2 separate regions of the Homo sapiens genome follow, and region 1 is linked to region 2. Evidence: fine-mapped expression QTL. A gene starts in region 2. The other region holds a variant in brackets. All regions are shown on one strand. Distances are between the middles of the regions. Region 1 has its middle 14 kb from the start of NKX1-1. Region 2 holds the start of MAEA (macrophage erythroblast attacher, E3 ubiquitin ligase).

The links. PIP is the estimated chance that this variant, and not a neighbour inherited with it, causes the effect.
Region 1: its variant is the best candidate, but not a certain one, in a credible set for the expression of MAEA in whole blood (INTERVAL, PIP 0.56).

What each region holds. Positions count from the first base shown.
Region 1 is chr4:1,418,299-1,423,512 of GRCh38, forward strand. No RefSeq gene overlaps it. Among named protein-coding and RNA genes, the nearest start is that of NKX1-1, 14 kb to the left of the region's middle. The variant G/A (reference allele first, on the strand shown) is at 2,598.
Region 2 is chr4:1,287,318-1,292,531 of GRCh38, forward strand. MAEA (macrophage erythroblast attacher, E3 ubiquitin ligase) reads left to right here and starts at 2,574. Exons shown (of 9, transcript NM_001017405.3): 1 at 2,574-2,665. The coding sequence starts at 2,597. LOC105374347 (a long non-coding RNA gene) reads right to left here and starts at 2,254. Exons shown (of 3, transcript XR_925046.3): 1 at 1,568-2,254. LOC105374346 (a long non-coding RNA gene) reads left to right here and starts at 286. Exons shown (of 2, transcript XR_925043.3): 1 at 286-406; 2 at 709-977. RefSeq lists silencers at 2,095-2,504, 2,605-2,884, 3,973-4,155.

The sequences.
Region 1 (5,214 bases), 130 kb after region 2:
TCATGCTCCTCGCAGCTTTGCTGTTAATCTAAAATGATTCCAAAAAGGAAATATTTATGACATTCATGTCATTAAAAAGCATCAACCCATTCCCTTTTTCCGATTTTGCATTATAATACGTAGTTAATTTTTTTACTAATAATATATAAATTCAATAAAACTTTCACCATTGGCATGCACTTTCTGTTGCTTGTTTCATTACATGGCAATTTCTGCCATAATTTTTTTTTCTTTTTAGAGGTAGGCTCACTCTGTCACCCAGGCTGGAGTGCAGGAGAGAGATCTTGGCTCACTGCAGCCTCGACCTTCCAGGCTCAAGGCATCCTCCTGCCTCAGCTTCCCAAAGTGCTGGGCCAATGATAACTTTTGTTTGCTTTTTGAGACAGGGTCTCACTCTGTCGCCCAGGCTGGAGTGCGGTGGCGCAGTCACGGCTCACTGCAGCCTGGAACTCACAGGCTCAAATGATCCTCCCACTTCAGCCTCCTCACTAACTGGAACTACAGAAGCCTCCACCTCACCCAGCAAATTACTGAACTTAATTTTTTTGATGTGCCCTGGGGTCAATACTCGAGATAGGTCCTGGTGGCTGCCTCACCAAAGGATGCCCCATTACGTCAGTCCTCCCAGCCCCTATCCAAGTGCCCATTTGTCATCACACTGAGGAGGCTGTGGGGTGAGGCTCCATGTCTCCTCCTCCACCTCCCCAACACGGCAGATGTGGGAGGCAGCTTAGGGCTGGGGATGAATAAGGGAATGTGAACACAGACACCACCCAGGACCACACCCCGTGATCCCAGCGAGGGGGGCTGGTCGTGACGGTATCTCTTTCCAGCTGTGACGAGGATGCCACCTGGGCTTCCTGCTGACCTGGCCGAACCCTGCCAGGTGTCTGTGAGGACATCCTGCCCTCACAGTGATTGTAGACAACCGTTGCCTTTTCTAGTGATCAAAGTAACACGTGCTCGTGAAAAAGCACAGAGGAGAAGCAGCATCTCCCATAACCCACAGCACAGCGACGGCCCAGCTCACACCTTGCCGTTTTCTGCTTTCCTCTCATCTCGTTTTCTGCTTCCTAAAAACATAAATGTTGGCCGGGTGCTGTGGCTTACGCCTGTAATCCCAGCACTTTGGGAGGCCGAGGCGGGCAGATCACTTGAGATCAGGAGTTCGAGACTAGCCTGACCAATATGGTGAAACCCCATCTCTACTAAAAAAAAAAAAATACAAAATTAGCCGGGTGTGGTGGCGAGTACCTGTAGTCCCAGGTACTCGGGAGGCTGAGGCAGGAGAATTGCTTGAACCCAGAAGGTGGAGGTTGCAGTGAGCCGAGATCTTGCCACTGCACTCCAGCCTGGGTGACAGAGCGAGACTCTGTCTCAAAAAAAAAAAAAAAAACCATAAATGTGGGCGCTGCACCTATAGCCTTGGGCACTTGGATGCTGGCCCCCCCTTGTATCCTAGGCATTTCTCGTTGTCATAGCAGACTTCGTAACACAGGTTCTTACCGGTCCCATAGAACCCTGTCACACGGAGGGCGTGAGCCGTCCATCCGTGTGCCTAGGCAGTCTGGCTTTCTGTGCCTGGAACCACTGCTGTGTAGATTCTTGTTTAGACTTGAGTTCACCTCTAGGAGACACCAGAAGTGATGGGTTGGGTTAAAGGGAGGGAATTCCTAAAGGCTGGGTAACGTCTCCGGCGTCACTGGCATGGGCACCATCTCACAGGGTGGCATCCCCGCCTCCTTCTGTGGCGGTTGCCATTTCTGTGGACACTGGTGAGAAGGAACATTTTCCCTCATGAATATTAGCCACGTAGCTTCTTTTTTTTTGTGAACTTTGTCTTCTTTGTGAGCTCTGTCTTTTTTCCATTTGGTCAGCTATTGAGGTTGTTTTGTGGGTGGCAATAGGTTAAAAAGTAACCTTGGGTTGGGCATGGTGGCTCATGCCTGTAATTTGGGAGGCCGAGGCAGGCGGAGCACCTGAGGTTGGGAGTTCGAGGCCAGCCTGGCCAACCTGGCGAAACCCCGTCTCTACTAAAAATACAAAATTAGCCGGGCGTGGTGGCAGGTGCCTGTAATCCCAGCTACTCGGGAGTCTGAGGCAGGAGAATTGCTTGAGCCTGGGAGGCAGAGGTTGCAGTGAGCTGAGATCGCGCCACTGCACTCCAGCCTGGGCGACAGAGGGAGACTCCATCTCAAAAAAAAAAAAAAAAGTACCCTCTACTATAACATATTTCAAACACACACAAAAATACAGCGCAGAGTAAGATCAGCTTCCTGGGACCTGTCACTCAGATGCAACATCTGTCAACATTTTGGTGTCAATATGGTTTTGTGTATCCAAAGCCACACCTTTATTCTGGAATCTTAAAATATACCTTCAGACATTAAGTTGCTTCACCTGTAAATATTTCAGGCAAGAAAAAGAAATAAAATGTAAACATATTGAAACAGAAAAAATAAAACTAGCCCTGCATACAGACGACATGATTATCTACGTAGAAAATCCCAAGGAAAAAGCACCCAGAATTCATAAGTCAGCAAGGTCAGAGAAAAAGCCTGAAAAAGGTCAATCTAATTTCTATATACCCACGATCA[G/A]TGATTAAATCCTAAAAATTCAAAAACATTTTATAATAGCTCCAGGTTAAGGAAGTTCCTTCCTATTCTTAATTTTCTGAGAAATTTGTAAAATCATTAACAGATGTTGCATTTTATCACATTTTTTTTCCGTATCCATAGGCTCATATGGCTTCTCTCGTTGCGTCTGTTGACATGGTGGATTGTGATGGCTGGCGTTCTCTGTTGAACAGCCTTGTGTTCTCAGGGTAAACCCCACTTGGCCATCATGTGCTCATGCTTTCCATGTTTCTGGATTTGATCGCTAGTGTTTTGTTGAAGATTTCCACATCTATGTGCCTGAGAGGTTTTGTCCTGTAGTTTCTTTTCTTGTGATGACTTTGGTGTTGGTATTAGGGGAATTCTGGCCCTGCGAAATGAGTTGAAAGTGTCACTTCCAGCCGGGCATGGTGGCACATGCCTGTAATCCCAGCACTTTGGGAGGCTGAGGCGAGTGGATCACGAGGCCAGGAGATCGAAACCATCCTGGCTAACATGGTGAAACCCCGTCTCTACTAAAAATACAGAAAATTAGCCGGGCATGATGGCGGGCGCCTGTAGTCCCAGCTAGTCGGGAGGCTGAGGCAGGAGAATGGCCTGAACCTGGGAGGTGGAGCTTGCAGTGAGCCGAGATCGCGCCACTGCACTCCAGCCTGGGCGACAGAGCAAGACTCCAACTCAAAAAAAAGAGAAAAAAATAAAATAAAATAGAAAGTGTCACTTCCACCTCTATTTTTTGATTAAGTTTTGTATAGAATTGGAGTTATTTTTATGTTTAAATATTTCGTAAGATTCACCAGTGAATTTATCTGGACCTGGAGTTTTCTTTTTTGGGAGGTTATTAACTATGGATTCAACTGCTTTAGTGGAGATAGGGCTGTTCAGGTTATTAGTTCTTCTTGAGTGAGTCTTGGTAGTTTGTGGATTTCCAATTGGTCCAGTCATCTGAGGTGCTGAATCCGTGCATGGAATGCTCCTTTGTTATCCTTACAATGCCTGTGGGCTCTGCAGTGACAGCCCCTCTGTTATGCCTGTAATGGGTCACTTGTATCTTCTCTTTCTTTATCAGTTTTACCTATTTTTATTGACTTTTCCAAAGAACCAGCTTCTGATTCCATTGATTTTATCTAATATTTTTGTTTCTATTTTTCTTAACATTTTATTTACTTATGTTTTTTGAGATGGAGTCTCGCTCTGTCACCCAGGCTGGAGTGTAGTGGCGCCATCTCAGCTCACTGCCTCTGTCTCCCAGGTTCAAGTGATTCTTCTGCCTCAGACCCCCAAGTAGCTGGGATTACAGGCATGTGTCACCACACCTGGCTAACTTTTGTATTTTTAATAGAGACGGGGTTTCTGCATGTTGGCCAGGCTAATCTCAAACTCCTGACCTCAAGTGATCCGCCCACCTCAGCCTCCCAAAGTGCTGGGATTACAGGCATGAGCCACTGCACCTGGTTATCTGTTTTTAATTCCACTGACGTCGGTTTTATCTTTACTATTCTTTCCTCTGATTGCTTTGGTTTTCTTTGGCTCTTGTTTGTCTAGTTACCTAAATTAGAAGCTTAGGTTGTCAATGAGATGTTCTAATATAAGCATTTATTGCTAAAAATTTCCCTCTAAGAGCTGCTCTAACTGCATACCAAAAATTTTGATATTTTAAATTTTCATTTGTATTTAGTCCAGAATGCTTTCTAATTTCTTCTAGGAGAACTTCTTTGATCCATGGATTACTTACAAGTGTAATTGTTAATTTCTCAGCCTCTGGGGTTTTAAAGGTATCTTTAGGTCATTCATTTCCAGTTTAAACCCACTATTGTCAAAGAACATGCTTTACATAATTTTAATTCTTCTAAATCTGTTAGTTTTGTTTTATAAGCCAGGATATGGTTTCTCTGGAGAGTTCCATGTGTACATGACAAGAACGTGTGTCCTGCTGCTGTTGGATGGCAGATGCTGTAAATGTCATTTAGAAATTGTTGGCTGATGGTATTGTTCTCCTGTATCCTCCCTCCTTATCTACCTAATTGTTCTGTTGATACTGAGAGGACTGTTGAGGCCCCAGCTAGAGTTGTGAGTCTGTTACTTTTCCTTTCAGTTAAAGGTCTGTTATGAGGGCAATACACGTTTAGGTTTTTATGTCTTCTTGGTGAATTGACCCTTTTGTCATTATGTAATGTCTGTTTACCCCTAATAATTTTTCTCGTTCTGAAGTTGACTTTATCAGATATTGTAGCCATTCCAGCTTTCTTTTGATGAACATTTCCCTGGTATATCTCTTTTATCCTTTAACTTTTAATTTACAAATATAGTCATATATAAAGTGGGTTCTGTGTAGCCAGCATGTAGTGGGATGGATATTTTTTAAAATTCACTGTAACAATCTCTGCCTTTTAATTGGGTATGTTTAGATTACTGACATTTAACATAACTGTGTTTGAGTTTAATTTTGTGGGTACAGAGTATGTGTGTATATTTATGGGGTACATGAGATACTTTGATACAGGCGCGCAAAGCATAAAAATCACATCATGGAGAATGGGACATCCGTCCCCTCAAGCATTTATCCTTTGTGTTACAAACAATCCGATTATACTCTTTT
Region 2 (5,214 bases):
CAAAACAGACTCTGTAGCAATAAGATGCCAAATTCCAACTTGACTCTAGTAGAGCATCACATGACAGATAGCTGGCCTTGAAGGAAATCAAAGTGTTTTACCCCAAAATATATTTCTTTGACATATTTTGAAAGGGCCCTGCAAAGCTGTCTCTTGTGGGAGAAATTTACATTCTGTAGGGAATCCCTTGCCCTTCCTTTCCGGGTCTTTTCTGATTCTGAAGAAGTTAATGGTTAACTGAGAGTCTAGCAGCTCTTGTTTTTTTTTTTTTTTTTTTTTTTTTTTAGGAGTCTCGCTGTGTCACCCAGGCTGGAGTGCAGTGGTGTGATCTTGGCTTACTGCAACCTCTGCCTCCCAGGTTCAAGTGATTCTCCTGCCTCAGCCTCCCAAGTACCTGGGACTACAGGTGAGTGCCACCACATCCAGCTAATTTTTGTATTTTTAGTAGAGACAGGGTTTTACCATGTTGGCCAGGATAGTCTTGATCTCTGACCTCGTGATCCGCCCGCCTCGGCCTCCCAAAGTGCTGGGATTACAGGCGTGAGCCACAGCACCCGGCCAAGTCTAGCAGCTTTTTAAGATCTAGATATGAAACATTTGCCATCTATTGCTTCTAATGGTGGCCACCTATGAGGCTTCATCTATGTAATAAGAACGTTGGTCTCCACAACCCCTTTTAACCCAGATGCTCCTTTCTCTCGATTCCAGATCTTTAGATAAGCACTCTTTCAACCAAATGCCAATCAGAAAATCTTTGAATCCACCTGTGAGCTGGAAGCCCCGCTGTGCTTTGTGTTGTCCTGCCTTTTCGGACCAATGTAAATCTCACATGTACTGATTGATGCCTACATCTCCTTAAAACGTATAAAATCAAGCTGTAACCCAACCACCTTGGGCATGTGTTCTGAGGACCTCTTGAGGCTGTGTCACTGGTCATGATCCTTAACCTTGGCAACATAAACTTCTAAACTGATTGAGATCTGTCTCAGACACTTTTTGGTTTACAAAAGGACTAATTCAAATACAGTTTTATCTTCCAACATAAGAAAACCTAGAATGAATGACTCAAAGGTTGTAGAGGGTTAAACAACCTCTCCAACGTGCAAACCTCTGCCTTATAATTCCTAAGTATTTCTGACTGTAGATGGTACTAGGATAGGATCATTTTACCATGGAAATGAAACCCGTGTCCTTTCCTTTGGGTTAATCTTGAATCCCTGGTGAAGTGAAGGCAGTCTCTAAGAGGAGTGCAGTCCATCCAACTGCTGCAGTGCTCCTGTGTACTACTGGGACCATCCCGGAGAGTGGCAGACACGATGCGAACCGTGAAAGGACGCAAAGAGTACAGAGTGCATGCTTCCATCTCTATAGGAAGGTCAGGAACGCTGTTACGGGGAGCAGGGTTAGAATGATGGGGATATAGCCCGGGAAGGGGCAGAGGAGCTTTCTGTGCCACGGGAAATGTCCTAAATCTCAACCAGGACACGGTTAGATAAAAGTGCAAATATGGGTGAAAATTCATTAAAGCTGTATAGTTAAGATTTGTGCACCTCACTGTAAAACTTACTTCAAATGTCTAAAAGACTGGAGTCTGCAGCCACACACTTGAGGAATAACACTTTCCTTAGTCCCAACTCCTGTTTAAGTAAGACAGAGAAAGATTCCACAGTGCGGGTCGGATGTCTTGCGGCTGTAACATGTAGCAGCCTCCAAGCGGAGGTTCTCCCTTCATCGCTGTGTCACCTTAGATGTTTTTCCTTTGTTTAAACACCAAATATTTTAAAAGTTGTTTAGAAATGTGTTATGTGAAACACAAGGTGGTTTAATTGGGACGTCATTTCCTAATTAATAAAATCTAATTTCAGTTTTATTTTGGAAAGGAGGGAGACGGGTGGTGTTTGAAAGGCTGAGAATGTGAAGTGGCTGAAATGAAGGCAGCGCACGACCTGGATGCCAGCGCTGCCCGCCCTGCAAGGAGAGGGCGGAGAGGCCACACGCTTCTCATGCTTCGGGAGTTTCTGTCCATAAATCAGTTTTAGGTACTGGGCCTTTCCTCTTCCGTTGGGAAGTCGGAGGTTCCACATCAGGATTCCAGCAGCTGTAAATCGGTCAAAATAAGGCCAAAGAAAAATAGCTGGCTACAGGCGCATGCGGCCAGGCGTTTTGTTGGCGTTGCCCTTGGTACCGCAGGCACGAGGGACCCACAGGGGACCACCCCGCGGGAGCCCCAAGTAACTGGACGGACGCCAAGTCCCCCAGCCCGCTCGGCCCCAGCTCCACCCGCCCGGGCCGCAGCCCGCACCCCATCGGCCCGCCCCGGGCCAGGAGCATCCCCAGCTCCGGCGTCTGCGGCCTGAACCCGGTAGCGAATTCAAGGTGGAAACCGCCAGCCGGGGCTATCGTTGATTGGCTGAACGAGAGGAAACCCGGCAGTGATTGGTTCGCGCCTTCTTCCGCCTCCGGCCGACTGGGCGGATACGATTGGTGCAGGGGCATCGGCCCGCCCCCATCCTGCTCCGGCCGGCGCGTGGCGTCATTTCCCGGCGTGCAGCGCGCTCGCGCGTCCCCCGCCCGCTAATGTTTTGGCCGCTTCAAGATGGCGGTGCAGGAGTCGGCGGCTCAGTTGTCCATGACCCTGAAGGTCCAGGAGTACCCGACCCTCAAGGTGGGCGCCTGCGCCGCGCAGGCTGAGGGCAGCGAAGGCGTCTCCAGCCAGTGCCCTCGGGCCGCGAGGGGCCGCCCCGGGAGGGCCAGCGGCGAGGGCGGCGGGAGCTGGGCGCGGCCTCGCGGGGCCGTGCGGGCTTCTCAGGGGCGCCCGGTCCGCGCCGGGCAGGTGTGGCGGGGGCGGCGGCTTTGGCCCTGCCAGGCGCCCGACTGTGGCCCCTCTGCTTGAAGAGCTGCGTGAGCCGAGCCAGCGACGACTCTGGCAGCGCTAAGGGTGGCGAATTTGGGGCTGGGGTGGAAGCCGGAGTTTGCGGGGCGTGGGGTCTCTGGCGCCCAGGCAGACGGAGTGCGCGGCGTGCCCAGCCAGTGCCCGGCCGCCCTCCCGGGAGCCCAGGGCTGGGAGGTGCCGGCTGCGCCGGTCGCTAGTTAGGAACTGTAGGGAGAAACCTCACGGCCTGATGGCACCCAGCGACCTTTTTGATGGGCGTCACCAAACCTGAAATACAGCTCTTGCCGTCCGGCTGCCGGTTGCGTGACCTTGGGTGGTCACCTAGCCACGTCGCACTTCTTAGAATGAAATTTGTGCTCCTAGTAGAAGGAGCCGATACTTGTTCTTTACCTAGTTAGTAGAGGATTTGATATGAAGCACCTGGGAAGGAATTCCTTAAAAGATCAAGGTCATAGCTTTCCTAGAGCTGCGGCTGAGCTTCGTGGTTCTGTGTTGCCTTCCTGGAGAGCTGCGTAGTTTCTCTCTCCTCCCAGAGCGCCCTGGTGTTCACGTCCGTCTGAGGACGGACGGTGTGGCGACAGGTGTGGAGGATGCAGTATGGCCAGGTTGCTGTGCGTTCCCCCAGCCCCAGGGCAGTTCAGCGAAGGGCTGAAGAGCACAGGCTGTGAGCCATCCTGCTGGGGTGTGAATCAGGCTTCTCTGTATTCGTCCTTACTGGGAGACATCAGGGCCCGGTTGGTGACTGTTTATTCTTGTCAGGTTTAAGCAGTGGTAGCGCCTGTGTCACCTCAGGGTGAAATGAGTGACCACGTATTGTTTCAAACAGTGCCTAGCATTCATTAAAAGGTCCCTGCTACAGTTAGCGCTGCTGAAGTCAGGCTGTACCCTGCTGTAGCTGGTCTTCATAGGAAAGCAGAAGCAAGCTTCTCCTCCTCTTTATTAACTAGCGGTTTATTTCATATTTTTAAAAAGAAACGGGGTTTCACTGTTGCCTAGGGTGGTTTTGGATTCCAGGACTTAAGCGATCCTCCTGCCTTTTGACCTCCCAAAGCGCTGGGCTGACAGGTGTGAGCCACGCGCCCGCCACACTAATGGTTTCGCAGTGGGGTTTCATGGTGCTTGTGTGTCCAGCACTTCTTTTGATCAAGGAAGGGAGGGCAATGTTGCTGACGTTACCAAAGGTCTAGCCTCTTGCTAGATCCCTCCAAGATGTAGGTGGTTGGTTTTTAATACTCAGTGACATTGGTGGATCTCTGTTGGTTTAGAGATGGAGACCCTGCAGCTGAGAGAAGTCTATACAAGGACATTGTGGTGATATTAGTAGGGAGTCCTAACCACTGACCACTTTGTCTCACGCAGTGCACCTCCAGGCCTGTCATTTCAGCTAACACACAAGAAGGTTTGAAGATCAGAACCGTGGTGGTTTGTCACTTCTGGTACTGGCTGGTGAATGTGGGAAACACTAGATAGGAAAAGTTTCCAGAAATCCTTTCATTGTGTATTGAAGGAACTAGGAAGGGAGATGGAAGGTCTCCGGAAAGGATTCTTCTTCAGGTCTTCTGCTGTTTTGTAATCGTGAATGTAATTTGTATTCCAGAGTGATTGCATAGCTTCTGATTAAAATAGTCATGCAGATAGTCATACAGGTAAAGAAATATTATAGTGTCATAATTTCTCTGTTGACACTTGTGTCACTACTGAGTTAAAACTTTTTTTCATAGAAGTTTTCAGGAGTGATTCCTAGTGGATAATGGAGGTGTTTTGCTGGGAAACTAGGGATCCTTGATTTAGAAGCATTTATTGGTATAGAACTAAACAGAACATGCTGAGCTCACAGCTCAAGAGCTGCACTCTTCAGTTTCCAGGAGGGGCCAGTGCAGATGTCAGAGAAGGGACCGAGGGCTGCAGGACCGGGGTTGTGGAAGGTGGGGGGTGGATGTTCTGCTTCTCTAGTCTGAGAGCAAGTCCTCCTGCAGGGTGGTAGCAGCTGGCATGCTCTGGACTGGATCTTCACCTGGTAATAGTTAAACTGCTTTCCTGCCATGTGAGTCCTCCACAGACTCACAGGGGATTCCTTTCTCTTCAGAGGGCTTGGTAGCCCTAGGTGGGTTTCAGCAGTAACACTTGGGATGTCTGCTTCCTCACAGCGTCAGGGCGGCTGGTGGGGCTCCTGGGTGCCTGGCAGGTACTTATTTTTCTATTTTCCTGGTGAAGTGGGAAGAGAATGGAACAGACGTGAATTGCTGCAGCCAACACGCACTGACCTTGGGCACCTCTGTCGTCATGAGCTTCTATTTCCACCAAAGGGGTGGACCGGCCTG